7 linked regions of the Homo sapiens genome follow. The protein of the gene in region 5 purifies or fractionates together with the protein of the main gene of each other region. This does not show direct contact. Each region holds a gene or a part of one and is shown on either strand. Other genes may lie near its edges. The genes, in order: ECI2, RFFL, USP15, LPL, EEF2KMT, GTPBP1 and CLTCL1.

What was found.
Region 1: the proteins of EEF2KMT (region 5) and ECI2 purify together in Homo sapiens (affinity purification with mass spectrometry, with the first as the bait; one large-scale study listed by BioGRID). This does not show direct contact.
Region 2: the proteins of EEF2KMT (region 5) and RFFL purify together in Homo sapiens (co-immunoprecipitation; one large-scale study listed by IntAct). This does not show direct contact.
Region 3: the proteins of EEF2KMT (region 5) and USP15 purify together in Homo sapiens (affinity purification with mass spectrometry, with the first as the bait; one large-scale study listed by BioGRID). This does not show direct contact.
Region 4: the proteins of EEF2KMT (region 5) and LPL purify together in Homo sapiens (affinity purification with mass spectrometry; one large-scale study listed by BioGRID and IntAct). This does not show direct contact.
Region 6: the proteins of EEF2KMT (region 5) and GTPBP1 purify together in Homo sapiens (affinity purification with mass spectrometry, with the first as the bait; one large-scale study listed by BioGRID). This does not show direct contact.
Region 7: the proteins of EEF2KMT (region 5) and CLTCL1 purify together in Homo sapiens (affinity purification with mass spectrometry; one large-scale study listed by BioGRID and IntAct). This does not show direct contact.

What each region holds. Positions count from the first base shown.
Region 1 is NC_000006.12:4,115,018-4,118,785, forward strand, and holds the end of ECI2 (enoyl-CoA delta isomerase 2), read right to left. Parts: intron 2,435-3,768; coding exon 2,291-2,434; intron 1,013-2,290; coding exon 857-1,012; 3' UTR 689-856; downstream 1-688. UniProt on the Homo sapiens protein: Able to isomerize both 3-cis and 3-trans double bonds into the 2-trans form in a range of enoyl-CoA species. Has a preference for 3-trans substrates.
Region 2 is NC_000017.11:35,057,078-35,060,975, reverse strand, and holds part of RFFL (E3 ubiquitin-protein ligase rififylin), read left to right. Parts: intron 1-3,898.
Region 3 is NC_000012.12:62,263,404-62,267,301, reverse strand, and holds part of USP15 (ubiquitin carboxyl-terminal hydrolase 15), read right to left. Parts: intron 1-3,898. UniProt on the Homo sapiens protein: Hydrolase that removes conjugated ubiquitin from target proteins and regulates various pathways such as the TGF-beta receptor signaling, NF-kappa-B and RNF41/NRDP1-PRKN pathways.
Region 4 is NC_000008.11:19,955,947-19,959,844, reverse strand, and holds part of LPL (lipoprotein lipase precursor), read right to left. Parts: coding exon 3,762-3,898; intron 586-3,761; coding exon 465-585; intron 1-464. UniProt on the Homo sapiens protein: Key enzyme in triglyceride metabolism.
Region 5 is NC_000016.10:5,091,296-5,095,193, forward strand, and holds part of EEF2KMT (protein-lysine N-methyltransferase EEF2KMT), read right to left. Parts: intron 2,270-3,898; coding exon 2,189-2,269; intron 601-2,188; coding exon 499-600; intron 1-498. UniProt on the Homo sapiens protein: Catalyzes the trimethylation of eukaryotic elongation factor 2 (EEF2) on 'Lys-525'.
Region 6 is NC_000022.11:38,704,309-38,709,002, reverse strand, and holds the start of GTPBP1 (GTP-binding protein 1), read right to left. Parts: upstream 3,060-4,694; 5' UTR 3,048-3,059; coding exon 2,856-3,047; intron 159-2,855; coding exon 47-158; intron 1-46. UniProt on the Homo sapiens protein: Promotes degradation of target mRNA species. Plays a role in the regulation of circadian mRNA stability. Binds GTP and has GTPase activity.
Region 7 is NC_000022.11:19,222,159-19,226,056, forward strand, and holds part of CLTCL1 (clathrin heavy chain 2), read right to left. Parts: intron 3,476-3,898; coding exon 3,295-3,475; intron 1,897-3,294; coding exon 1,733-1,896; intron 652-1,732; coding exon 526-651; intron 1-525. UniProt on the Homo sapiens protein: Clathrin is the major protein of the polyhedral coat of coated pits and vesicles. Two different adapter protein complexes link the clathrin lattice either to the plasma membrane or to the trans-Golgi network.

The sequences.
Region 1 (3,768 bases), on a different chromosome or scaffold from region 5:
AACTAAAAAGTTAAGAGATTTGGTGAGTTAGCTAACTTTGACCTTAAAGGAAAGGTCAAAAGGAAGACTAAGAAAAGCAAAATATCCCATCCTTTTCTGTAGCCCTTGGAATTACACCCTCAGTCCTTGTCAAGTGATAGCTATGAAATCAAAACAGGGTGTTACAAGGACAATCAAGGCAGCTTGCAGGGATGCCTTTCATAAAGTACCACATTAAACAAGAATGGGACTCTAACAAATAAGAAAACAATTACTCATACAGAGCATTGCTTTCCAATGAAATGACCCAGTTTTCCCTTCATGCCTCTTTATTAAATTGTGCAAAAAAACCCAACTAAGATTCTTATTTGGGTTCTTATTCTTATTCTTGATTCTTATTTGTTTTCTAGTAATACTATTCCTTCCATTTTGCTCCCTTGCTACATGGCTGAAAAAGAACATGCAACCCACTGAAGACCTCAAGTCAGTGATCTGTAGGCTGTCAGCATTTGGCCCAATTCAGTCAGCCACTGTTTGTGGACGTCAAAGTGCTATAGTGGCATTCAAAGACATGACTTCAGCCTGTAATGCTGTGAGTGCTTTTCAAAGTAGGACCCCAGGCACCATGTTCCAGTGTTCCTGGCAACAACGATTCATGTCAAAAGACGTAAGACTCTCTACTACCAAACACCTGTGTGAATTCTTAAGCTTGTTTTACAAAACTTTTTATTCATCAGAGCTGTAGTGAAATATCATCATTGTAATTGATATTCTAGCACTACAAAAGGCACAATGAAGCTTATTTAGTTCCAGTACTGGAAATCAGAGGTAACAGCACATCCTTCCTTGGACATGCTTTACTCTGCTGTAGTGGTCATCACAGTTTTGATTTTCTGGATAAGAAGTTCACCACAGCATTTGTGCATTCATCTGATAGCCATCTTCCCTGAAGGACATTGCATTCTTCAGCATTAACAGCGTGTAGTTTTTCTCTCTCTCTTTTCCTGATTACCTCTTTTGAAATTCTCAAGGCCTGGAAAAACAAAACCAACAATAAGGTTAAGAGTTGACCTAGGCTGGACGTGGACTCATGCCTGTAATCCCAGCACTTGGGGAGGCCGAGGCGGGCAGATCAGTTGAGGTCAGGAGTTCAAGACCAGCCTGGCCAACATGGTGAAACCCCATCTCTACTAAAAATACAAAAATTAGCTGGTTGTGGTGGTACATGCCTGTGATCCCAGCTACTCAGGAGGCTGAGTCAAGAGAATTGCTTGAACCCGGGAGGCGGAGGTTGCAGTGAGCTGAGATCGCACCATTGCACTCCAGCCTGGGTGACAAGTGAGACTCTGTCTCAAAAAGAAAAAAAGAGTTAATCTAATAGGAGTGAGATTATTCTATGATTCTGGTTCTTGTTTCTCCCATGTTCATTTAATAAATCCTGTTAAATCTTTTTTTTTTTTCTGAGACATAGTCTCACTCTGTCGCCCAGGCTGGAGTGCAGTGGTGCAATCTTGGCTCATTGCAACCTCTGCCTCCCGGGTTCAAGCAATTCTCCCTGCCTCAGCATCCAGAGTAGCTGGGATTACAGGCGCCCACCACCACGCCTGGCTAATTTTTGTATTTTTTAAATAGAGATGTGGTTTTGCCATGTTGGCCAGGCTGTTCTTGAACTCCTGACCTCAGGTGATCTGCCCTTCTTGGCCTCCCAAAGTACTGAGACTACAGGTGTGAGCCACTGTTCTCGGCCCTAATGCTGTTAAATCTTAAGCTGCATGTGTAATATAAGACAGTGCTTCTCAAAATTCAGTGTGCATATAAATCGCTTCAGTAGGTGTGGGGCAGGCCTGTGATAATACATTTCCAAAAAGCCTCAGGTAGCTGCTCAAGCTTCTGGCTCCAGGACTACATTTTGAATAGCAAGAATATAAAAGCAATCAGTCACTCACTACCACATACAAAAACAAAAGTGCTATACAATAAGACTCTCAAAGTAGCTAATCCATGCTTCTCACCTGGATTCCAAAGTAAAAGTGCTCAGCAAATACTGCCTAGCATCCTGCTCAAGTAATCCCCATACAGAATTGCCCTCTGTCCCCACACAGAAATGGAAGGTCTATTTGATAAGTTTTGTAAAAATCAGTACTGCATTTCCAACATTACTACAGTTATTTTTTAATTCCAAATTTAGATGTGCTTAGAGGTAACTAAAGATGTGTCTTGTGCTTTTTATGACTTATTCTCTGAAGGCAAATAAATTTTTCCCTTAGGAAATCATTTTCAAGGTTCTTAGAAGTAAAAGATGAATACTAACATTTGGGGGAAGCTTTGCAAATGCCTTCAGCCTGGTCCAGACTTCTTTCTGAAAAGTGCTATCAGGGAAAACTTCAGTAACAAGTCCTTGAGCACATGCCTCTCCCGCTGTTAACTTCTTTCCAAAAATAAGCATCTCTGTTGCCTGAAATGAAAAGCAAGAAGCAAGGTTAAGATACTAACTTAATAAAACAAGGCTTCAGTTAACTGCTTTCAGGAGGCTTAGAGAGATGTACTCATGGTCTTTTGAGGTTGCTGGTATTTCTCAGTAAGGGAGAAGCTGATGACCTCAATAGGCAACGGTTTGCAAACTGTGTGCTGAGACAGGCTCCTGGGAAGGTCTATAAGGGCTGCTGCTTCTGTGTATCGTTGTTGGAGGGGCAAGATCAGGGGGTCCAGGGCAGAAATGATCTGAAGCAGATGCTTGATTCTATAACCCACAGCAGCTATGATTTTCCATTTGATACACTATAAACTATTATTTTACAGAGGAAAAAAGGAGAGAAAAATTACGGTCATTGGGTCAACCTTTAGAAACTTTCAAAATTCCATTCTCTGGAAACTACCCAGTGATCTGGCTCTGAGAGTTTTCTTTACCTGCATTGGTACTCAAATTAGTTCTATTTGACTAAAGGAAAGCAAAGACTTATAGTTAGCTTCCGAAAAAACTGAGGACATTAAGTGGATATCCTCTCTCCATTTGCAATTTCTTTTCCAGAAAAGGAATGCTCTTCTTTTTTTTGAGACAGAGTCTCACTGTGCTGCCCAGGCTGGAGTGCAGAGGCACGATCTTGGCTCACTGTAACCTCCACCTCCTGGGTTCAAATGATTCTCCTGCCTCAGCCTCTTGAGTAGCTGGGATTACAGGTGCCCGCCACCATGCCCCGGCTAATTTTTGTATTTTTAGTAGAGACAGCATTTCACTATGTTGGCCCGGCTGGTCTTGAACTCCTGATCTCAAGTGATCCACCAGCCTTGGCCTCCCAAAGTGCTGGGATTACAGGTGTGAGCCACTGCACCCAGCCAAGGAATGCTCTAATAGCCAAATGCTCTAAGACTTGTAGAGTCAGTTCTGCCCCCTTCCCAAGTTCAATTCAGGGTATGTGATAGCCTAATGAGAGTAAAAACATACATATATAAGTTTTTAACAAAATCCTAATAGGCAATGAAAACAAGCTCAATTCCCACTGCCCCACTTTGAGATCTTGCAGCAATATTTGCTAAGCCTTTTCCTATAGCTCAGCTTCTGGTCTTGTCACAATCCCCTTCGAGTCATGCCACAGGGCGTGGGCAACTAGGAAACACAGTGAAAGACCTGAGCAGCCACTTAACCAGCCTGGGAGAGAATACACCCGTGAGCAGGCTGATGGAAGGGCTGCTGTGATTGGGGGTGGCTCTGGCAGCCGTGAGCCCCCACAAAACCTCCCATCTGTTGGTACTTACTGTAACTCTGAAAGTGAAGACGTCATCATGTCTCTC
Region 2 (3,898 bases), on a different chromosome or scaffold from region 5:
CTCTAACTGGCAAGATACTCATCCCTCAGGACACTTAGTTCATATATGCATCTTCTCTGACTTCTCTGTCTTTTCTGACAGACAGCACTGTCTGTCTCTTCCACTAGACTGTTGAGTTCTTTGACTGAACTTGGTGTCCCTGGACTAGAGCTTGGCACCATCAGAGAGAGTGGCTGACGTGGATCTCCGGGCTCAAACCGTTATTCTTTGCAATATTAGAAGCTTTTTTGTTAGATGGCATGGTTTTTCATTCCTATTTGATGAACATGAGCCCATGGCTGCTTATTTTGTATGTGTTACCTGCCACCATCAAGTAATCATTCAAAGTTAATTTGAAGATTTAAAGGGTTTGCTGAGATCTAGTCCCGCAATATCACGACATTTTTATGGTGTTTTACAAAATTATTTCCCTCATATGGTTTTATTTGCGTTGGGTAGGCTTTATTTATTATCCCTATTTTACCAGTGATTATAAAGCTAGTCTGATACCAAAGCATATATACATTTAGGTAAGACTCAGAGAGAAAACATGGTTCTTACACTGCATTAAGCAGCTGGTTTGTCTCTTAATATAGTAGTTAAATATACTCTATCAGGTTCCACAGAAATGGTGCCTTTGCTCGATAGGCAAGTGCTAACGGTCTTGCCTTTTACAAGGCCACTTTATCATCAAGGTAGGAGGAGGAGGTACTCTGAACCTGCCTGACCTATGGGAAGGCCCTGGTTGTGGTTAGAGACCTTGATTGAAATTAATGGTGTGCGTACTCCAACCTCTCAGGTTTTTCTTTTATACTTCAAATATCTGGAAGTTGTGAAAACCTGCTGCCCTGGTGGAGTATCAAACCAGGCTGGTGAGTGAAAGCGGTCATCCCAAAATGGAGTAAGCTGAGTGTTAAGGGCAGAAAACCTTTTACAGTTATAGTAAGTAATTAACTTTTTAGATCACTTCACAACTTTTGGAGTGCTAAAATGCCATATTTGGGACTATGAGAAATTCCATTATAAAAAGCTGAACCATTAGAGCTAGGAAATAATCTCTGTTAGATATTGGCATATGGTGTTCAATTTTGGGTCTCTCATACTTGAGAGGATAATTAAAATGATTAAAAGGTTGAAAAACAGGTCTTATCATTATAAGTTTTAAAAAGGGGGGAAAGATTTTAGCCTAGAGAAAGAAAAGCTAAGAGATAACTTCATTATCATCTTCAAATACAAGAATAGTTTTGCCAGGGGGATTTTTATTAATTATTCTTCATGAACTTCAAAGATTTAAGAGGAAATGGTCTTAAATTGAAGGAGGAGCAATTTTGATGAATACGAGAAAGAATTTTTTGATCATCAAAGTGGGGAAATGTTTGAATGACTGCCCAAGAGAGTGTTGAATTTCTGACTGTTTCAGTTGTCTATTGTGTGACAAATTACCCGAAGACTTTTGGTGGCATAACATGACAACCATTTTATTGCCTATGATTTTGTGGGTTAGTAATTCAGGAAAGGAGGACATATTTTTTTTTGTCCCATATGATGCTGATTGAGCTGGAGGATCCAAGAAGGCTGCACATGTCTGTACCTTTGGAGCTAGCTGTTGGCTGGGATATCTTGGTTCTCTGTGAGTTCTCTTTCTTGGTCTCTCATCACTTATAAACCTATATCGAGTGGCCGAGCGCAGTGGCTCATGCCTGTAATCTCAGCACTTTGGGAGGCCGAGGTGAGTGGATCACCTGAGGTCGGGAGTTCCAGACCAGCCTGACCAACATGGTGAAACCCCGTCTCTACTAAAAATACAAAAATTAGCTGGGTATGGTGGTGGGCACCTGTAATCCCACCTACTTGGGAGGCCGAGGCAGGAGAATTGCTTGAACATGGGAGGCGGAGGTTGCAGTGAGCCAAGATTGTGCCATTGCACTCCAACCTGGGTGACAGAGCGAGACCGTCTCAAAAAAAAAAAAAAAAAAAAATTCTAGCTCGAGCTTCTTTTACATGGTGGCTGGGCCATAATGGAAGCTGCAGGATCTCATAAGACCTAGGCCTGGCAGTCATACATCATCACTTTTGCCCCATTCTTTTTGTCAGAGTAAGTCACAATTATAGCCCAGATACAAGAGGAGGGGACATTGACTTCACCTCTAAAGGATAGAGGGTAAAAATCACATTGCAAAAGGGCATGCAATGTGATTGGGATTATTACTACCAACTTTATTTTTTGAAACAGAGTCTCGCTCTGTCACCCAGGCTGGAGTGCAGTGGCGCAATCTCGGCTCACTGCAACCTTTGCCTCCCGGGTTCAAGTGATTCTCTTGCCTCAGCCTCCTGAGTAGCTGGGATTACAGTTGCTTGCCACCACGCCTGGCTAATTTTTGTATTTTTAGTAGATACGGGGTTTCACCATGTTGGTCAGGCTGGTCTTGAACTCCTGACCTTATGATCTGCCCGCCTTGGCCTCCCAAAGTGCTGGGATTACAGGCGTGAGCCACCGCACCTGGCCTACCACCAATTTTAGATACAATTTACCACACTGACCTTAGAGATTTTTCATGAAAGAATAATCAATATATGTTTATTAAATGGGTAGTTTGGGCATATGATTTACAAATTTGGCTGCATATAGAGTCATCTGGGAGCTTTTTACAAGCATAAGCTCCTAGGTACCAGACCAGTGACTCAGTGTCTCCTGGGGGTGTTGTGTTGGCACATAAGAGACACTCTATGTCCTTTCTTTCAGGTAACTATCAGTAAAATGAGTATGGTGGGGGGGGATAGATAGATATAATATGTAAGGCAAGATGATATGTACATTGAGATAGATCTCATCTCTCCTGCTTCTAGGACTTGATTGAATCCTATCTAGCATGCTCTTCTTTCCAGTCTGCCTAGTGTAAATTATATTTCATTAAATCAGCCCATCATCAGAACAGTGTTTCTTGATGCCTCTCATTTTTTTCTCATGTTTTCTGGCATTTTTCCTTCATTACTTTTTTTTTAGTTCATAATTCAATATTTATATGATTGTTTGATGTATAATAGACAAAAATACATCTGCTTTGCTTTCGAGTATCTAACATAGTGTCTGCCTCATAAAAGGCACTCAGTAAGTACTTGTTGAATGAATAAGTGGTTGATTGAATGCATGATTGAATGAAGTGATATTTGAATTTAGCTTTAAAGGTGATTGGAATTTTGGACAGGTAGAGCAAATGAATGGGAAATTTATTGTTCTGAAGTGGAAACTGGATCATATTGCTCATGTAATTTCAGAAAACTGGAGAAACTGGTTTGGGAAAATGGAAGAGTTGGTTTTATATCTAGTATGCTAAGTTTGAGGTATGGAAATTTAGCAGGCATTTAGAAATGAAGCACTGATCTGAAGGGTGAGATTGATTCCAGATATTCACTTTTGGGAGTTACCTGACTGGAGAATGTGAAATCTGTTCCTTTCACAAATACCTGGTAAGCTCCTACTGTGTGCCAGACAGCTATGTTATAGGGAAGGTGAACTGCAGTCTGAGAAGGAGCCAGTCTTGTGAAAAGAGCTAGGGAGAATGTTTCAGCCAGAAAAGGAACCCAAGTTTGTAGGCCCTGGGGCAATAAATAATTTATAATTTTTGAGGAATTGAAGGAAGGTGACCGAAGGACAGAGCAAGGTGAGTGAAGTGGGAGAGCTGCATGAGGTAAAGTGGAAAAGGCAAGCAGAGCCCACATCACATGGGGACTTTGTGGGCTAGATAGTGAGTCTAGCCTTCACTCAAAAGTGTGGTGGGGCTGGGCATGGTGGCTCACACCTGTAATCCTAGCACTTTGGGAGGCTGAGGCAGGTGGATCACCTGAGGTCAGGAGTTTGAGACCAGCCTGGTCAACGTGGTGAAACCCCATCTCTACTAAAAATATAAAAAATTTTAGC
Region 3 (3,898 bases), on a different chromosome or scaffold from region 5:
CTTTTGTGTAAACTGGGTGATAAAATCTAAAGGATCTACATTCCCCTGTTTAAAGGATAAATGGGAGAACGAGTCTGGCGAAGTGGCTTCAGAGGAATGAATATGAGACACAGAATGTGAATTACAGTGGTAAGTGAGGAAATTAAAAGAAACAAGCTAGACTGACATTACTCAGGGAAGAAAAAAAGTATTTAGTAATTGTTGAAAAATTCTATACAAGGACTAAGAAAAAAGAGAAATTCCCATGGTTTAATGAAATATTGTTTGAATTACATTCGAGTAGTGACAGCATAAAACCATTTTTAATACTAAGGATCTATTCTTAGTATTAGATAGTATCTAGTACTTTAAATCTTTATAAACCAGGTATTTAAACCAGCTCTGAAATCATCAAAGATAAAATGAAGTGTAATAAGAGCATGTACTTTAAAGGCTATGTAAGTGTAAAGCATTTAAAATAGTGGCTGCGACAGACTAAGCATTTAATAAATGTCCGCTGGTAGTAAACTATGAGCAAGCAAATTAATTTCTCTCAGATTCCTCATCTATAAGTCATATAAATATATATATTTTGGTCCTTCTTTTGAGGATCAAATCTCGTAATGCACATAATCAACCTTTATCAGTTGTTCTCTATCTTCCCCTTATTTCCCTACCAATATGCCCAATGGTTTCAATTTACTTTTGTCAATAATCATGACTTATTAATGAAGTGATTTTCAGTGAAAAAAAGAAGAATCACTCTAAACTCACATCATAAGATAAATTCAAGACTAAGATAGCAAAATTGACTGTTTTATTATCATTGTATCTTCCACTATCTTAATTTAAATGTTCTTTCACTTCAAAAATTCTTTAAGAGTTATCTCTAGGGAAAAAATCAGTTGGTGAACATAATAATGCATTCATATTTGCATTTTCTGTGCTGAGTGGTTCATATGGATTTAAGTCCAAGAAGAAAGCCGTATGTATTTGTGGCTTATAGTAAACCAATACCATACTTTTAAAATATGGACCAAGTACCGAAACAAAATAGCCTACAAGATCTTACTATATGCTTCATGGGTTATTTCTGTAAAACTATATGTGAAGGGGCCATATCATCTCTAATAAGAGCTTATGATTATTGATAGACAATTAAAATTCAAAAGCTCAATAGTAAATGACCTCAAATTTTTTTGTCTGAATGTACTTGTGGATCAAAATGACATTTGCTCTGTACATTCAATTATTCACCTATCAATCTTTAAGCATGTTTTAATATCCAGAAGCAAGGTGTTAAGATTTCCTACATGTTCTATCATATCTAAACTGAACAGTCACAAGAGGCAAATGGTAGAATTCTGCTACTAAATATAAAATAGACTTCCTTTAAAAAGAAAAATAGGTTCTTTTCTTTTTAAAGTGAATCTACTTTTTAAAAAATGAATCTTTAAAATAAGAGACAGAGGCTGGGCATAGGGGTTCACACCTGTAATCCCAGCTATTAATACTTGCGAGGCTGAAGTCAGAGGATCATTTGAGGTCAGGAGTTTCAAACCAGTCTAGGCAACACAGTAAGATCCCGTCTCCACAAAAACTTTAAAAATTAGCTGGGTGTGGTGGCGCACACCTGTAGTTCCAGCTATTTCAGAGGCTGAGGCAGGAAAATTGCTTGAGCCAAGGAGTTTGAAGCTACAGTGAGCTATGACTATGCCACTACACTCCAGCCTGGGTGATGAAGCGAGACTCTGTCTCTAGAAAAAATTTTTTTAAATAAAATCAGAGGCAATGTGGTACAGTGCTTTAAGGGCACAAACCAAAGACCTAAACTACTTGGGTTCAAATCCCAGCTATACCACTATGTGAAAACCTTTTTGAGCCTATGATTCCTATTTTGTCAAATGTGAATAACACCGATTCCCAGAATTGTGGTAATATGGTGATGAGTAAATAAGTCAATATGCATTTATAACAGTACCTGGCACATAGTGTTTTTAAATGTAATATTACAGGTCATGGCCTGACAAACTGATTTTATCTTGTTACACTTACGTAGAAGCAAAATTGTTAACTGTCACAAAACCATTTTGCAAAAAGGTCATTTAATGCCTTATATGTGCTAACAGGAAAATGGTATAATTTAGGAAAAAAAGCCTTAATTTCACAAAACAGATAAACGAAATCATTGACTAGCTCTGGACCTTCCTGGACTATTAGGGTACATTAACCCTGGACTCACTAACAGAAGTCATTTAAAAACTTACGAAAAAGGCTTAAATTAAGAAAAGTTGCTTTCCTAGATTTTTAAGCATCTAAGATGTGAAACATGCCTTAAGGTCACTATCTCTGTCCTTGTTTTCACCAATTTACCAAGACTGAAGAAGTTTTTCCTTTTAGTTTCATTTCCTATAAATGATGTAGTATATACCCTACTCTGGTCGTAAACACCCTGGCACTACTGAAACTAATTTTAAAAGTAATAGTAATATAAAAATTTCTTTAAGTATACACTAAATATTTTGAAATTCATGTTGAGTAATAGTGTTCCTTTTCATTATTAAGGGATTTGTGAGTATAAGGTTATTTTCTTTTAGTTTCAAAGTTGCACGAACATAAGGGATCAAATAAAATTAAGCCTCAAAGATTTCTAAGTAAAAGTCGGAATGGACAGAAAGCTCTAAAAACTGAAATCAATGTCTCTTGTCTAAAACTTCACTGATCAGATTCTTTGGCAATTATTGAAATGAAAATGTCACAGAGATTTTAAATGACTTCACACACAAATTACTTACTCTGTAAAGTTACCTACTACAGTTATTAGGGTTTATACAAAAATGGCATGCAATGTTTTGCTAAACTGCAAAAGTTAACTACACATTACCACTTAACATAATCACACATAAAAATTACTGAAAATGATTGGCAGATGAATAACATTTAATAAAAATGGTGGAAACGAAGCAGTGCTTTGGATGATTTGTGGTTATGTTTTACTTACTCATAATAGGCCCATTTCTTTAAAAATTTCCAGGCCAGAAATTTTGCAGGTGGTTCACACCTGTAATCCCGGCCCTCTGGGAGGCCAAGGTAGGCAGATCACTTGAGGCCAGGAGTTCGAGACCAACCCGGGTAACATGGGGAAACCCTGTCTCTACTAAAAATAAAAAATTAGCTGGGCGTGGTGGCATGTGCCTGCAGGCCCAGCTACTGCGGAGGCTGAGGTGGGAGGATCACTTGAACCCTGGAGGTGGTTGCGGTGAGCCGAGACCACGCACTGTACTCTAGCCTGGGCGACACAGCGAGACTCTGTTTCAAAAACTTTTTTTCCAAAGAGAGTATTTTATAACCCATAATTTTCTTTGTAACTCATTAACTACCATTCCTTAAATATGTTCCTAAAATACTCATATGTACCTTAAGCAAATTATCTTTTTGTCTCATCAGAAGAAACCACCATGTATCTGAAAATTGTTTTTAATTCATCCTAAGCGATACAATTCTAGTTCATTTATCTCTTTCCTATAGTTCCTAAACTCTAAATTTTGTTCGTGTTTTTCTGATCTCTTGTTGAAATTGAAACACAGATCAACAAATATCATTTTGAGACTGCTTTATTCCTTATACAAATCAGTGCTACCTTCTTCTTGCTTTTTAAAAAGGTATTACTCTCGTATTAATTTTGATTTACTTCTCAATATAAAGTCTAGAACTAAATACATCATAAAGTATGTTTCTCTTCATCTCACACTTGTGTAACTTATTTTCATCTCTAGAAAATCAGTTTTTAGATAAAAATCATTCACTGCTTACAAATAAAGAGAAACTGTAGTACTTACACAGAATGAAATAAATCTTTATACTTGCCTAGGTATGGAAGTTAGTTACCCGAGTTACCATGAGACAGTCATTATCTGCA
Region 4 (3,898 bases), on a different chromosome or scaffold from region 5:
TGCACTCCAGCCTGGGCAATAGAGAGAGACTCCATCTCAAAAAAAAAAAAAAAAAAAAAAAAAAAAAGAGCTAACACTTTGTCATGGACTTCTTACTACTTATATTTTCTGTACATATTATATGTACATCTATAGAGTGGTTTCCTGTTACCATTGCTCATTTTCTTTAATGTCAAACCTTTTGAGATAGTTTAATTATATTGTTTAACAGCAGCTTTATAAAAGAAATAAACAGATATAAGATGATAAATAAAAAAATATAACTAGTAAGTGAAAATAAAATGGCCAATTTGAAGCATTTTTTTCTCAATATCAAATAGAGGAAAGACCTCAATTTTGAAATTCTGATTTTTTTAACTAAAGACTTGTTTTCTAGGCATCGCTCTCTGCTTCTGCTGCTCAGACCAAGGGTTATGGCAGGAGAGGGACTGGTGCCATGATGACCGCCCCCCTGTGCTACTCACAGAGTGAATGGGATGTTCTCACTCTCGGCCACGGTGCCATACAGAGAAATCTCAAAGGCCTGATTGGTATGGGTTTCACTCTCAGTCCCAGAAAAATGAATCTTTACTTGGTAATGGAAGACTGTTGGGGAGGAAATTCGAACATGTTGATCAATCTTTATGAAAATATCACAACCCCAAATAGTCAGGCAATTCAGAACCACAGAAGTATCTCACTAGCACTCAAACCGGAAGTGCACACACATGGAACCACTGGTGTGGCTTGGAAAGACTTCATCATGCACAGTGTTCATACCTAGAAAATGCAGACCTTGAATTCTACTCCCTTTCAGAAAAGTGTGGTTATATGCATAGGAAAAACCCAAATGTGTCTGAATTGCCAAGCAGCATTAGGAAGTAGCCATCTTTGAGGGGTGCTAGGGAGATCAAATCAGAAGGCCAAAACACTCATGATGCTTTCTCCATGAACTCCGCCATCCTTGGCCATCTTGTGCCTTAGCATCTGGAGCAAGCATATTTGACATTTGCTTCTGTGTCACTATATGTCACTGTGTTTGTTTCATGAGTAGGTCTGTCCTCCACCCTGACTGTAAGCGGGCTTCCGGTCACAGGATCATGCCCATGCTCTTAATTCCCCCACCATCTAGCGCAGATTAGGTGTCTAGTAGGTGCATCATAGAACTTATTTCGTTGATTTTTCCATTCCGTAATGGGCACACCAAAATCTCACAAATCACTACTAAAGAACTTACTCATGTAACCAAACACCACCTGTTCCCCCAATAACCTATGGAAATAAATAAAATTTTTTTTAAAAAAGAACTTATTTCATTGAGCCATCAGTGAGGCCACAAGGACTGCCTTGTAAAGCCAGCCCCTAAAGTATTCTATACTAGGGACAGCCTCTGGAAGCAGGTAGTTGAACTTCTATATCTCCTCCCTGCCCCTCCTCTGGTCTCTACCAAAAACCCTGAGCAAATGGGCCTGGGGAGAGGTTAAAAGGAAAGGCAGCAGGACTAAAATAGAACCATGATGATGGAGGAAAAAAGAGTTCTTGGAGGCCAGGCATGGTGGCTCATGCCTGTAATCCCAGCACTTTGGGAGGCCTTGGTGGGTGAATCACCTGAGGTCAGGAGTTTGAGACTAGCTTGGCCAACATGGTGAAACCCTGTTTCTACTAAGAAAAATACAGAAATTAGTTGGGCGTGGTGGCGGGTGCCTGTAATCCCAGTTACTCAGGAGGCTGAGGCAGGAGAATCGCTTGAACCGGAAAGCAGAGGTTGCAGTGAGCTAAGATTGCGCCGCTGCACTCCAGCCTGGGTAACTGAGCGAGACTGTGTCTCAAAAATAAATAAATAAATAAATAAATAAATAAATAAATAAATAAATAAAATAATTCTTGGAATGTTTTTTCTTCTATATCCCACTATCCTTGGTCAGATTTTTTTCTTATTTGTGTTACTGTCTATTAAATGTATTTTCTCTTAAGCTGAGACACAGATCTCTTAAGACTGATGGTTTAGAATATAGCAGACCATATTTTTATGCTGCTTTAGACTCTTGTCCAGGTGAAAAAATTTTTAATAAATGTTGTGAACTTCTGATAACAATCTCTATTTTGTTTAGATACATCTCTTTTTATAATTAAAAAGTAGTCAGATACTAAGCAAAAACAGAAGAACAACAACAAAACCCCACAGCTGCTAAAAGATGAAGAGACATTGAATTGAGAATTAAGCAAAACCCTTGCAGGCAGCAGGACAGGCCAGAGCTGAAGAAGCTGGGAGTGGTGAGGTGCCCCTAGGGGACACTGACAGAGCCTTGAACCCACTGGTGCAGGAGGCAGGGATGAGTGAAGCCTGTCTGTGTCTTCAAGATTATGGTCCCACAGTCCTCTCTTTACCTCATACGCATTGCCTGATTTTGAAGAGTTAAGGTTTCCTTGAAGCACAGGTGCCTCAACCTCTATACCACGAAAGACACCTCTACAGATTCTAAGAATCACCTTACACATGGGTGCCATATGTTTTACCTGGGGCCACTGTTCTTTAATATCATCCCTTCCCTCAGGTTTCCATCTGGATTCCACAAAAGCCACCCTTCCTGAAGTTGGTCCCTCTCACCGGATTTATCCGAAGACCTCCTCTCTCATTTTCCGACCATTCCTTTAGGTCTGCCTCTAAACAAGAGGCCAAGCTTGAAATTCAAGTGTGAAACAAACTCCTGGCAAAATGGCAGTATCTTAGAAGGTGTGAGATATTCTTGCCTTCCAGGAATAGTTGCATTTAAAAAGACAGATGAGGCCAAGGAGGGCAGATCACCTGAGGTCAGCAGTTCGAGACCAGCCTGGTCAACACGGTGAAACCCCCTCTCTACTAAAAATACAAAAATTAGCTGGGCATGATGGTGCATGCCTGTTATCCCAGCTACTCCGGAGGCTGAGGCAGGGGAATCATTTGAACCCGGGAGGCAGAGGTTGTGGTGAGCCAAGATCATGCCCCTCTCCTCCAGCCTAGGAGAAAGCTAGACTTCATCTCAAATTAAATAAATAAATAAATAAGACAGATGGTCCTTGCCTTTATGTAAGTTGTGAACATTCTGTAAAGGGCCAGGGAGTAAATATTTTAGGCTCTGTGGGCTATCAACTCTGTTATGGTGGCATGAAACCAGCCTTTGACAATATGGTAATGAATGTGTGTGGCTGTGTCCTAATAAAACTTTGCATGAGCACATAGAGGGGAACAACAGACACTGGGGCCTCCCAGAGGGTGGGAGGAGGGAGAGCTTCAGGAAAAGTAACTAATGGGTACTAAGCTTAATACCTGGGTGATGGAATATTCTGGACAACAAACTCCCATGTCACAAGTTTACCTTTTTAGCAAACCTACATACGTACCCCTGAACTTAAAAGTTTTAAAAAAACTATTTACAAAAGCAGGAAGTAGGCTGGATTTGGCACAAGGGTTATAGTTTGTTGACCCGAGGTGGATGGTTCCAAATGAGCTCTGAGCTCTGTGCTGATAGCCTAGCCCATGCTAATGGCCACATTTACAGGGGAGGGCAGCGAGCAAGGCTGCAAATCCCACACTGAGCACTGGGACCTTGCTGACAATGGGAATTAGAAGCCTCAGACAAATGGATCAATGCAACCCCCTATCAACAGAAACACCAGGGCTCAGGGTTTAGTAACACCAGTCATCATCTCTGTTCCAATGGACAGAATCAGTACATGTGATGCAGTGAGCATGATGAAATAGGACTCCTTGGTTTCCTTATTTACAACAGTCTCCAGCCTACCTTTGTAGGGCATCTGAGAACGAGTCTTCAGGTACATTTTGCTGCTTCTTTTGGCTCTGACTTTATTGATCTCATAGCCCAGATTGTTGCAGCGGTTCTTTCTACAACTCAAGCAGAGCCCTTTCTCAAAGGCTTCC
Region 5 (3,898 bases):
GGTCTCAAACTCCTGACCTCAGGTGATCCCCCCGCCTCAGCCTCCCAAAATGCTGGGATTACAGGCATGAGCCACCACGCCCGGCCTGATTTTTGTATTTTTAGTAGAGACAGGGTTTCACCATATTGGCCAGGTTGGTCTCGAACTCCTGACCTCAGATGCAACCACTTCGGCCTCCCAAAGCGCTGGGATTACAGGCGTGAGCCACCACGCCCAGCCCTGTCAAGTATTCTTTGAGGACTGGGCACCAGGTCCTTGTGAAGCAGGTAGTGTGTGTCACCTATTGGATAAGTGCCCAACAACTCCACGAGACATGCTGTTGTTGTTGAAGTGCCTGATTTACAGACAGGGAAACTGAGGCTAAAGAAGGTTGACGGACCTCATGTCTAAGACTGTAGAATGGGTGAGTCAGGATTTGAACCCACACCCACGTTTTCACTTTGTCTGTGCAGGAAGGGTATCTGGGCTGTGAGGGGGAGGAGGGTGCCCTTCTCATACCAGCAAATAGCTCCGGTGGCCCTGGGTGGACTCCTTGGCCATCAGGGTCTCCGCCAGCGCTTCATACAGCTCGTCCAAAGGCTCTGTGTGGACAGCCTCGTGCTGGGGGCAGACAGAGTGAGAGCTTGTTTGCTTTCGTTCTAATCTGTAAAAATGGCCAGATGATTTTCACCAAGTTTGGAGGGGAGATTTGCGATGGAATGGTATAATACCGGCCAGCTGCCATATAAAATATTCACTTCGTTGGGCTTGGTGGTGTGTGCCGAATAGTCCCAGCTACTCTAGAGGCTGACATGGGAGGACTGCTTGAGCCCAGGAGTTCGAGGACAGCCTGGGCAACAGAGACCTTGTCTCTAAAAAAAAAAATTCACTTGGTAGGGAAACCTGGATGGGAGGGCCTTGAACCAGAGGTGTTGGGAGGGTAGGGTTAGGTGTAGTCTAGGGCAGGAGACAAGGATTCCGTGAGAGTTGCCAGGTGACCATGATAGAGAGCCGTGTTTGGATCAAACACAGAGAGGAGGAAAACAAAAGGTGCTTTTAAGTGAGCCCAGGCAGAAGTGTGAGGGCGGCCCATGCTGCAGGCTGTGGCTGTCAGCAGGCCGCTTCTCCACAGCTGGCCCCGTCCTATGATTCACAGGGCAGCAGCAGAGTACACTGGGTGACTGCTGCCCTCTCCTGGTGGCACAGGGCAGACCTGCTGGTGACCACAGATGCATGCTTCTGGGGAGGACTAGGGAGAAAGCAGGTATTGGAGAAGCAGGGGATTGTTTATTTGCTAAAAGTGTGGCTCTTTCACTCAGCAGGTCTGCTACTGCCTACTGAGGAGGCCTCTCGACATCCTCATGTCAAACCCTGCATGTTCGGGCGCATCTTTAAAATCCATCCTAGGCCAGGTGCGGTGGCTCATGCCTGTAATCCCAGCACTTTGGGAGGCCGAGGCAGGCGGATCACCTGAGGTCAGGAGTTCGAGACCAGCCTGGCCAACATGGTGAAACTCTGTCTCTATTAAAAATAAAAAATTAGCCAGGCATGGTGGCGTGTGCCTGTAGTCCCAGCTTCTTAGGAGGCTGGCATGACAGTTGCTTGAACCCAGGAGGCAGAGGTTTCAGGGAGCCGAGATTGTGTCACGGTAATCCAGCCTGGGCAACACAGTGAGACTCTGTCTCAAAAAAATAAATAAATAAGTAAAAAATAAAATTCATCCTTTATCAGTCAGGAAAGAGCTCATTCCAGCAGGATTAATGCAGAGAATTCACCAGAGGAACTAGTTCCGAAGGTATGGCAAGAGCTAAATCTTCCAACAGGGGCCTGTGGGGCAACCCAGAGACGGACAAGAGCAGGAAACTCCAAACCCTTCAGCGGGCAGGACAGAGGGTGCGGGTGAGGGTTCCAGTGCTGTGGGCTGGGCCAGCCTGGTAGGAATGAGAATCCATATGCTAGGAGCTGGGGCCCCAGAGGAGCAGCTGCCGTGGAAACCCCAGGAGGCAGAGTGAGGGAGAGATGCTGGCCTCCCCTTCTTCCCGCCCTGCACTGTCTCCCATGGGTCACATGTGGCTGCAGCCAGTTGCCTGGGGAGGCCCCTGCCATGCTGGGGTTTGCAAAGCAGGCCCAGGGCCTGGGAAGGACGGGGGCTCCAGCACGCAGGTGGCTATGCTGTCCGGCTACTGGGCGGACACTGCCCATAACTGACCTTTTTGATGAGTTCTGAGAGAAAGCACCGGGCATATTTGACGGACGGCGGGTGCTTCACACACACAGGATGCTTCACAGTCTACGGCAAAGGACAGAACGTTGGTTGCTCGAGAGCCCGTCTTAAGTCTCCTATGAGCTTCAAGCCAACACAGCAGAGGGCAAACTCCAGGCTACCCGATCCCTCAGCAAAGATGTAGATGGACACAGCGTTTTGGCCCCATGCATCTGAAGTTTGTCTTAAGATATAAGCTGTTTCCTAAAAATGCTTCCACTGCAGTGGCACAGGCTATGGCAGCATTTCTAACGCCCATTCTGAGCAGGAACACAGGGCATGTGGGCCCAAACCGCCTCCCTCCCAGGGGAGCCAGTGTGAACCAGGGTTTGCAGTAAGGACAGTCGCCAACGGTCTGGCTCTATGGAAGAGGCGGGAAGGCCCACTCGGCAACTGCTCTCTTGGAGTGTGTGTCCCTGGGGACAGGATGGAGGGGACGGGACGCTCCGGGTGACACTCCAGCTAAAGCCCAGAGAAGCCAAATGCAGGATGAGCAAGTTCTAGGCAGTGGGAACAGCTGGTGCAAGCTCTGAGGTGGCCACAGCCTGGCACTTGGAAAGGAGGGCAGAGGGACTGGTGCAGCAGGAGTGGGGACGGCGGGAAAACAGGAGCCTGGAGGGAGAGGGAGGAGACGGTCCACAGTGCCTGCTGGCTGGGAGGGATGCAGATTCTGCCCAAGGGCAGCAAAGTACCCCACGCAATACACAGGCTCTTCAGGCTGGTGCTGGTTTTTCATTTATTCTGACACAGAGTCTCGCCCTGTTGCCCAGGCTGGAGTGCAGTGGCCCGATCTTGGCTCACTGCAGCCTCTGCCTCCTGGGTTCAAGCGATTCTCCTGCCTCAGCCTCCTGAGTAGCTGGGACTATAGGCATGTACCACCACGCCCAGCTAATTTTTGTATTTTTAGTAGAGATGGGTTTTTGCCATGTTGGCTAGGCTGGTCTGGAACTCCTGACCTTAGGTGATCTGTCCACCTCAGCCTCCCAAAGTCCTGGGATTACAGGTGTGAGCCAGTGCACCCAGCCTTGTGCTGGGTTTTAAAGCAGCTCTCCCTACATTTCATGCTTCACCACCTACGAGAGTGAGGCTCAGGGTGAAACTCAGAGCAGGGTGCGAGATAACTTCAGGTATCTCCATGCTCGAAGCCCTGGTATTGCCCCGAAAGTTTTCCCTGCTGTGGCTGTATCTTTTCCACATGGATAATCTTGGTTCACCTCTAGCACAGGAATTCTTCACCGGGGCTCCTAGGATGGGCTGGGTGGGTGGGGGTGGAGGATATCTGCCTCCTGAGTTTGTATGGAAAATGTATTCTTCTGGTGCACTTCTTTCTGCGAGGGAGTCTATTGCTTGGTCTTTTCAGAAGGGCTCATGGCCCTTCGAACGTGAAGACCCAGGATGCAGGGTGATCTGCACTTGGCCCTCAAGGCCAAGGTCAGGCTGTGGCTGGGCCGGGTGGTGATCCTGCCTCTCACCTGCAGGCAGATGCACTTGAGTCCAAACCCCACCCTGGGCAAAGCAAGGGCCCATTTAGGTCTAGAGGAGACAGGAGTGGGCAGGACAGGCCTCATGAAAGCAAAAAAGAAAGTCTCTGAACATCAACCAAATGCTAGAAGCTGTTTTGCACCTGTCATCTCTGTTTTTGCTGTGGATGGTTTA
Region 6 (4,694 bases), on a different chromosome or scaffold from region 5:
GGCCCAATAATTTTTAAAAATAAAGTGAAAGGAAAACTATGCTCACCTGATCCCTGCCCAATGACATATATGGTCTCTCCGCATCCCTCGTCCATCCTCTCCCACATCTGCCGAAGTAGGCTGTCATACTGCTCTGATGTAGGGCTCACTAGAACCAGCTAGAAAAGAAACCAACAGCCTTAGGACCACACTTGCTAGAAGAGCACCACAGCCAAAGCTGATCAATATAGCCTAACCAAAGATCCTGACTGAACCCCATAGCACCCTCATCTAAAAAGGCTGCACAGCCCCTTCATGCCCTCTCTGCTTCTCCTGAAGTAGCCTTTGAGCCTCAGGCCTTATATGAGCCAAATAATATACTACAATGTGTATGTCTGAGCCATAACCCATGGTAAAGAGGGCACAAGCAGCCTGCCTCCTGCTGCTTAACAGGAAGGGCAGGACCCAAGTGACTGAGAATATGGCACTGTGGATAGAAAGCGCAGTGCTTTCCATCTACATGCCAAAGTCTTCTACCTGCAGTTGGCATCTGGAAGCCCACAAGACATATACCTCATATACCTCCATGCCCTCCACCCACAGGCCAGTGGCTTCCAGGATAACAAAAGAATTCTGTTCTATCTTGTCTTAGCTATATTGAATATTTGGGAATGAAAACTGCCTGCAAGACTCATCTTCATCAACAAAGCACCATCACCATTACCACTACGAGGAGTATTAGCACCGTCATTTTGCAAATGTCTGCCAATAACATTGAAGTGTCAACCATTTACTTGGGTAAGCCATTTGGCAATCAGACCCCATTCTCTAACCACTCCTGTGTGACCTTGGACAAAGAATTTAACCACTCTGAGTTTCAGTTTTTCAATCTATAAAACGGAGCTAATACTACCTGCATCCTAAGGCCACTGTAAAGAGCAAATATAATAACATGTAAAGCATCTAGTCCACAGCTCAATAAATGTGAAACTACAAGGTTTTCTTCACCCAATCATTCCCAGAAAAACCTTGTTGGATGAAACTAGCCACCACTATTCACTAAGTGTTTCTCCCTTTGGAAGCTCTCGGAGCCTTAGGTCTCCACATTTTCTATCGTAAGGACATGAACCTTTCGCTTCTAATCTGTTCCTCCGGAATCAATCTATTCAACCCAACCCTTCTCTCCCTCCACACCATCACTTTTTCTTTTTGATATCATCGATATTAATATACATATGATTTTTTTTAATTGTAAGGAGGACTTCCCCAGCTATGTGATGAAATAACACTTCTAGGAATATTAAATGAGCTGGTCAAGAAATGAAGGTACTACCGTCTTTGCAACTCTGCCCTGCAATTTCCTATCATGTTTCTTCAGCACCTTGACCATGTGTTGACATCCAGTTTGTTTGCTCTTGAGTCAGGTCCATAATCTTGTAACTTCCTGAGTTGACTCATCAGAGCTTGTAATTGTAACCTGGATGTTTCCTGGGTCTTTTACATCGTCCTGGCCATCCCTCTCTCTAAGTTTGGCCATCCTCATTATGGCCTTACAGGCACAAGACAGGACCAACTTTGACAGGCTAGCTGGCTTCCAAGTGCTCACCTGAGACTACAATGGCAAAGAGCAGTTGAAAATAACTTGCTTAGGTTGCAGGGAAAGTTCCTCCCCAGTTTAGGACCAAGTTTCATGCAAATTTGCCGCCATAAACTATAAAAAGTCACAAACATTTTCAAAGCTGGATAAAATGTCTATCGTAACTATCCTACAAATGTAAGTGGTGGTATTGGTGTTCTATCTTTCACCCACTGCTATTTAATCTGCACAGGAAATTAGGAACTATCTCGTTCACTTCAAACATTTACTGAGTCTCTAGTATGCATCAGGCACTATTAGGTGTCTTCTTAAATATTTCTAATTTTTACAACCCATCTGTACTTTCTTAAGATGAGGTGGTTGGAGAACTGAAAGGTTAAGAAACTTTCCCAACGTCACAGAGCCTTTCGATGGTAGGGCAGGAAAGGGAACCCAGCCCTGTCTGACTCCCAAGTTGGCATTCTTTCCCTAAGGAACGTTAAGCACCTTCAAAACACCAGTCACATCTTGTATTTACTTTTCTATTCTTCACAATGTCAAGCCGTTGGCGAGGCCTTAATTCCTGCCTACCTTCTCGACAGCTCAAAAAACACGGTTTTAAACGTCCTTCACTGCTCCACTCATACAAGATGAGCTTCCACTCACAGGATAGCGAGACTAAGGAGCCTGACCATCTTTCCATTTTGTTTCGGGTGGCCTCGAAAAGTAGACATTCTCGGACATGCTCCTCCCCAGCTGAGCGACTACTTTCTGTTTCCTTTCCCGAGTCTGGGAAGAGACGCGGCGGCCACCCTGCCCTGGCCTCCGACTACCTGTCTTCATGAGCGTCTCGGCCCCCTGCCCGGGCCCCCTCGCCCCTCTGCTGTCCCGCGCGGTCCAGGGAGAGGAGACTCTCGGTCTCCGAATCCCCTCAAGTGGGGACCCGAAGAACGGGGAGGGGCACTGAGCGGGGACAGGGAACGCGCGGAGCGCAGCTGGCATCGGGCGCCCCCGTTCCACGTGGCAGAGCCGAGGGGTTACGATCTCGGCGGGAGACGGGAGGGCGGGAGGCTGGGTTGGCGACGCGGGGGAGCCAAGGTGGGTGCGGGGACCATGGGGACGGCCCCTCGCGCCGCGAACCCCCGCACGTCCCGGAGACTAGCAGGTGGGCGGGCTCGGCCCCTTCTTCCCGTTCCGCGCTCCCCGCGGACAGGGCGGCCGCTGGCCCCGCCGTCGCCCGGGAGACTGCTCGGCCAGCCGCCCGCTCCCCTCAGCGCCCGCCGCCGCCGCCCGGGCCTACCTTGCTGGTGAGGTCCAGCTCTGGCTCGCCGTTGAGCGCCTCGCCGTCCTCGCTGCAGTCCGAGTCAAAGCCGCCGTGGAGTCGGGCGGCGGCCGCCGCGGCCCTGGCCGCCCCCGGGGAGCTGGGCTCGGGGGCGAACATAGAGGCCGGGACCGGCGAGTCCATCGCGGAGCGACTGCGCTCCGTCGCCATCTTTAATAACTTAGGCTAATTCGTAGCCGGCTTCCCTCCCTCCCAGGCTCATTTGACTAATCTATGCACAGAGCCCCGCCCCGCTCCTTATCGGAATAATTTATGCAAAACTCCAGCCGCGTACTGGGTGACACGTACCTCTAGCTAAGAAACAGTCGACTAGGCCTCTCAGCCACCAATCCCTGCAGAGCTTTCAAGTACCTAATGAATAATTAATGAGGCCCAAATCCCAACAACAAATGTCTGAGACGTCACGCGCCCTGCTCCCAGCTTGGGAGGGGGCAGTACCGAGTCCCCGCTACCCGCCTGAAGCCTTCCCGCCAACGGAAGCAGAGAAGTGTCTGACTGACACAGCAGCCATCCAATGAGGAGAGAAATACAAACAACGTTACTCGTCAACGCCCCTTCACTCTCCTTGTTTCCAGAGGCGGTACTAAGCCTGCAAATCTTACTGCAAAACAGTAGGCGCTGTAAGCCTTCCGATGACGGACAAGGGCAGGACCCAATCGAGTCATAGAACAGGTCCCGCGCCTGGACCTGCTCATGGAGATAGTAAACTGCAAAATGAGCCTCCCACTCGATTCAGTGACTGAGGCAGTTGCTGGAACGCCGATGTCCAACGTGCTGGCATGCTCCAGGCAACTTTAATAGTAGGATCGATGCTGTAAGTTCCAAGAGTTGTAATACTATAGCAGCCAGAGTGAGGCAATAATTAAATGCTGACCTTAGGGAGAATTCTCCATTCACTGCCTTTGCGGAGGCAATCACACGAACTAAAAACAGAGGCAAGCAGCTAAAATTAAAAGCCAAAAAACACCTCACCACTTTTGTGGTGAACTGCTAAACCGAAATCTAGGGTCTCATAAGGTAGTTTCCTATGGATTATTTTTCCAGTGTCATCAGTTGTGAAAAGCCCCAACCCAAAATGCCATCAACACACGTTTTAGTGTCTTGAATTCCTGTTTCAAAAGCCGGAAAAGCCTAGGCCGTCATTGTTTGGCGAAATTAGGGATTAACCAACGTCTATGAATGTCGGCCTTGGCCACTCGAACCAGGCATCAAGCAAACAAGAGCATGTTTGAGAAGATAAGGAATCCAAGACTTAGGGTTTGGACCTAAACCCTAAATCTTTAGTGAGCAAGTGGCAGGATTGAAAATGGCTTTCAGTTTTGGGGATCTACCTGAGAAGAAAGAGACAGTCTCTTCTTGTCCCTGTTTTCCACTACTATCAAGTCTTATTTGCACAAACACAGCTGGGAATCTTGGACAGGAAGTCATCTGATTCCAATGGTCTTGATACTGTTCTTATGTGCTTTTTAATTTCTTCCTTGCCAAATTGCTCACCTCCATCCTATATGGGCCGGGAGCAATGGCTCACACTTGTAATCCCAGCACTTTGGGAGGCTGAGACGGGTAGATCACCTGAGGTTAGTAGTTTGAGACCAGCCTGGCCAACATGGTGAAACGCTGTCTCTACCAAAAATTAGCTGGGCGTGGTGGCATGTGCCTGTAATCCCAGCTACTCTGGAGGCTGAGGCAGGAGAAGCCCTTGAACCCGGGGGGGGGGGGGGGGGGCGGAGGTTGCAGTGAGCCAAGATCACACCACTGCACTCAAGCTTGGGCAACAGAGCGAGACTCCCACTCACA
Region 7 (3,898 bases), on a different chromosome or scaffold from region 5:
GACGTGGACAGTTTGGGCAAAACCCTGAAAGGGCTCCTGTTTAGCACTGCGCTGTGTCCCACCAAAATTCACCTGCTGATGTCCTAACCCCTAGTGGGATTCTACTTGGAAAGAGGGTGTTTAAGAAGGTAATCAATGTCAAGGGTGGGGCCCTAATGTAATGGGACTAGTGTCCTTCTAAGAAGAGGAAGAGACACCAGGAGTGCACATGCACAGAGGAAAGGCCCTGTGAGGGCACAGCCAGGAGGCTGTCTGCAAGCGTGGGAGACAGCCTTCACCAGAAACCAGCCCTGCCGACACCCTGATCATGGACTTCCAGCTTCCAAAACTGTGAGAAATAAATGTGTGTTGTTTCAGCTGCCTGGACTGTGGTCTTCTACTCTGGCAGTCTGAGCACACGAACCCACCACCCTTCAAAATGATAGTCTCTGAAATGTCAGGTGTTACAGGCAGCCTCTGAGGGGAAGACTGCCACTGACTGGGGCCCAGAGGCAGCCGGGTGTCACTCCAGGGAGCCAGCAGTACCTTCTGCACGTAGATCTCAATGTACCTCTGCAGGTTGTTGCGGTATAAATATAGGACAAGGTCATGGACAAAGCCAAAACGATCACACACGATGATGAGGGGAAGCTGGTCTGTGAGCTTGGCCTCCTGAGGATTAGAATGCACAGAACAAGTCAGGGAGTGGAGAAACCAGACAGCCAGACCTCGGACTCATTGCACACATGGGACGGCTCTGTCTCTGCAGCAGAGTGACACACAGGAGACTCAGAATGAGACTGCTCTAAATAGGCTGTCGTTTTGTGGTATGGCATTTGCTTTGGGAAATAAGTGAGAGAAAGATATTAGTATTTGGTTAAAGACTGCTACATTTGGCATTAACATTCCAAATCTGGACAAAAATATCTTTTAAGACAAGCAGCTCATTATGTGCAAACCCAACAGAAACCAGGCCATTCTCAAGAACAGCACACCTGCGGTAAGGGCTGCCTTTTCAGACACGCAGCCGCAGGCCATGGAAACACACCCGGCCACCATTCCCAGATGATGATGGCACTTGGGTAGGACAGCCACAGGCCACCACAATCATGCCTCCCCTCATGTGGTCCCGTGCCTAGATCACATTTTGAAGTTTTAAGTGTGGCCACATGACCTCATTTCCTCCAATGGAACGTGAATCCAAGTGTCATCTGCCACTTGCAGGCCTCGCCCATAAAAACCACCTATGCTGGTTCCTCTGTGCTCTTCCCTTCCTCTAGCTGACTGGGAAGACGACATCCAGGTGAGGTGCTGAACACGGCAAAGCAGCCATGAAGCTGGTCCTTGAAGTACAGTGGGAAGGAAAGTCACCCCACTGACCTCCAGCCTACCCTGGACTGCCACATAAGGAAGTAGGCTTCCTGTTCTTTATGACACTAGTGCTGAGTGGTCTACTTGTTTCTGCAGCTTTGCCTGCCTAATTGACAATGGCACTAATGGGATGTTGATGAATTACAATGCAGCAATAAGTGCCAGATACTTAGAGCACAGCCTCAAGCTGCTTTCCACACTCTTAAAACGATAGAAGGGTTACTTTAGAACTTTAAGCCATAAAGTGGAGCTCTGTCCCTGGGACTAAGGGGTCCCTGGCGAGACAGATCCAGCTTCCTGCCCCTGGGACGTCCTGCGGATGGTCTGCCCCACCTGCCATCAGCAAGGGCAGCTCATGGAAGGAGGCAGCACTGGAACACACCTTCAGGAAGTTCTTCACACGCTCTGGGTTGTAGCAGCTGCTCTCTCGGCATATCCTCTCCACCTCCTTGATCTGCCCTGTCTTACAGGCAGCCTGAATGTATTTCAGATGCACATCTGGGTCTTGGCTGAAGTTCACGATTGAGCCCAGGAAGTAGAAGAGGCCTATGAAGAGAGACCATTCCATTTTTGTCCTTGTAACACCTGCCTGTCTCCTCCGTAGCTGCTGCCCACCTTCCCTCGATGACCCTGCTCCACTCTCCAGGGACCCACAGCACACTCAGAACTCATAATCAATATGCCATTTGTCTGTTTTGGCAGCTCCCAAAAATAGCTAGTCGGATTTCCATTATATTTGGCAGGTATACCTGGCATGTTTTGATGTAAAATACTAGATATTTGGTACAAGTGAAATTCCTTTTGTGGGCCCAGGTATACCTAGATAGTCGTCATCAAGAGTAATTCCCACTGAGGTAATCTGAAATGGTGGTGGGACTGCTTCTCTAAAAAGACACATCAAGGGACAGAGAAATAAGCCATGGCCTCCAGGAGGAGGCCTGCAACTCAACACAGAGCTGACAGTGACATGGGCACCACATGCTGAGCCCCAGGGTGAGCCCCAGAGGACAGCATTCACAGAGGCTAATGATGTTCCTCATCATTACAGAGGCCAGCCAGGAGGCACCAGTAACAACAGGGTACGACACATCTGAGAAGGCCCCTCCCTGTCGAGGTCTTTCACTGTAACTGTGAGACCCTGATGCTAGGAAGGGAATGGGCAGCCCCTGGGCTGACGGTTCTCCACCAACCTACTCTACTGCCCTCTCCCAGCCCAGCTCCACTCAATCGTCTGCCATGGTCTTTCCTACAGGGGTGTCTTCTAAAGAGAAGGCCAGTTCCCTGAGGACAGGGTCATGTCCCACCCTCCACCGATGCCCCAACCTCACTGGACACATGGCAGTGGCTTGATGCCTAGACAAATGCTTAGTCTCTATCCTGGGTGGGCCAGACAGCCCCCATCTGTCCCTAACAAAGCCACTCCCATCCCAACTGCCCTAGAACACTTTTTTGGTGTGATGTCCAAGAAGGGGAAAGGAAGACAACCAGGTTACCTTGTCAGCCCCCCACAATCAACTGGGTAGCAGACACCACAAAGCAATGCACCCTCTATCGTGGGCTCTCATTTAGGAGAGGCCCAAAGAGCCTCCCTCCTGGGGCTGTAAAGACCAGACATCAGGCCCTTTCACTGTACCCACGACACAGGCTTTTAGATGAATTCTTGCCAGACTGTGCTGCGTAGACACACCGGGCTCCATAAGTTTCTCCATCCCATCACCAACCAACCTGATTTCTTCCTTTGGAAATACCAAAAAGGTTACTGAAGCTGAGGGTGCACATGAGATGGCAGTAGCATTCTGCCACCGACTGAGCACCCAAGGCAGCCAGTGCTGCATCCTGCCTGGCTTTGCAGGAAGGCCGTCTTAAGGCGGGCAGGTAGGCAGCAACACCTGAGAAAGGAGGTGTAGTCACATGGTGGGGTCGGCGAGAGGCTGCATGGTTTACCTTTGTAACTCTTGAAGGATTCAAAGAGCTCCACCAGGGCCTGCGTGCCCAGCTGCTCGTGGTACTTAGAGGCCACCTGCACACACAGCTGAAGGTTCTGTCTGATGTTAGCAGACAGCATGGCATGCAGACACTCCACAGAATCCTCCACCGATAAGGAGCCAAAGAAATTGACAAGCCACTGGGAACAAGGAAGAGTCTGTCCACAACGATGCACCACTCTAAAGATTGCTAACACTTGGAAAATAACTAGGTCATTCTCCTGTTCCCCTGAGTGTCAAAAATACAGAGAATTTCCACATAAAGGGGTTGAAAAGCAACTATCCATCACGGGAAAAAGTAGGAGCAAGGAGTAAAGCTGGGAAAAGACACTGATCTAAACTGTTCACCTGGAATATTCCACAGATGATGCTAAAACTTATTCCATAAATTGGAACACAATAGCTAGTTTAGCTTTGCTAATGGTTTCAGACAGTCCTATTAGGTTGTCAATGTTAAAAGGTGACCAGTATACTCCTGCTATTAGACTAAGTCAAAGGTGGATATCAGAAAGAAAGGTGCTACAGGGCCCAGACATGCTGCTGAGCAGATAAACTTTGTGCGT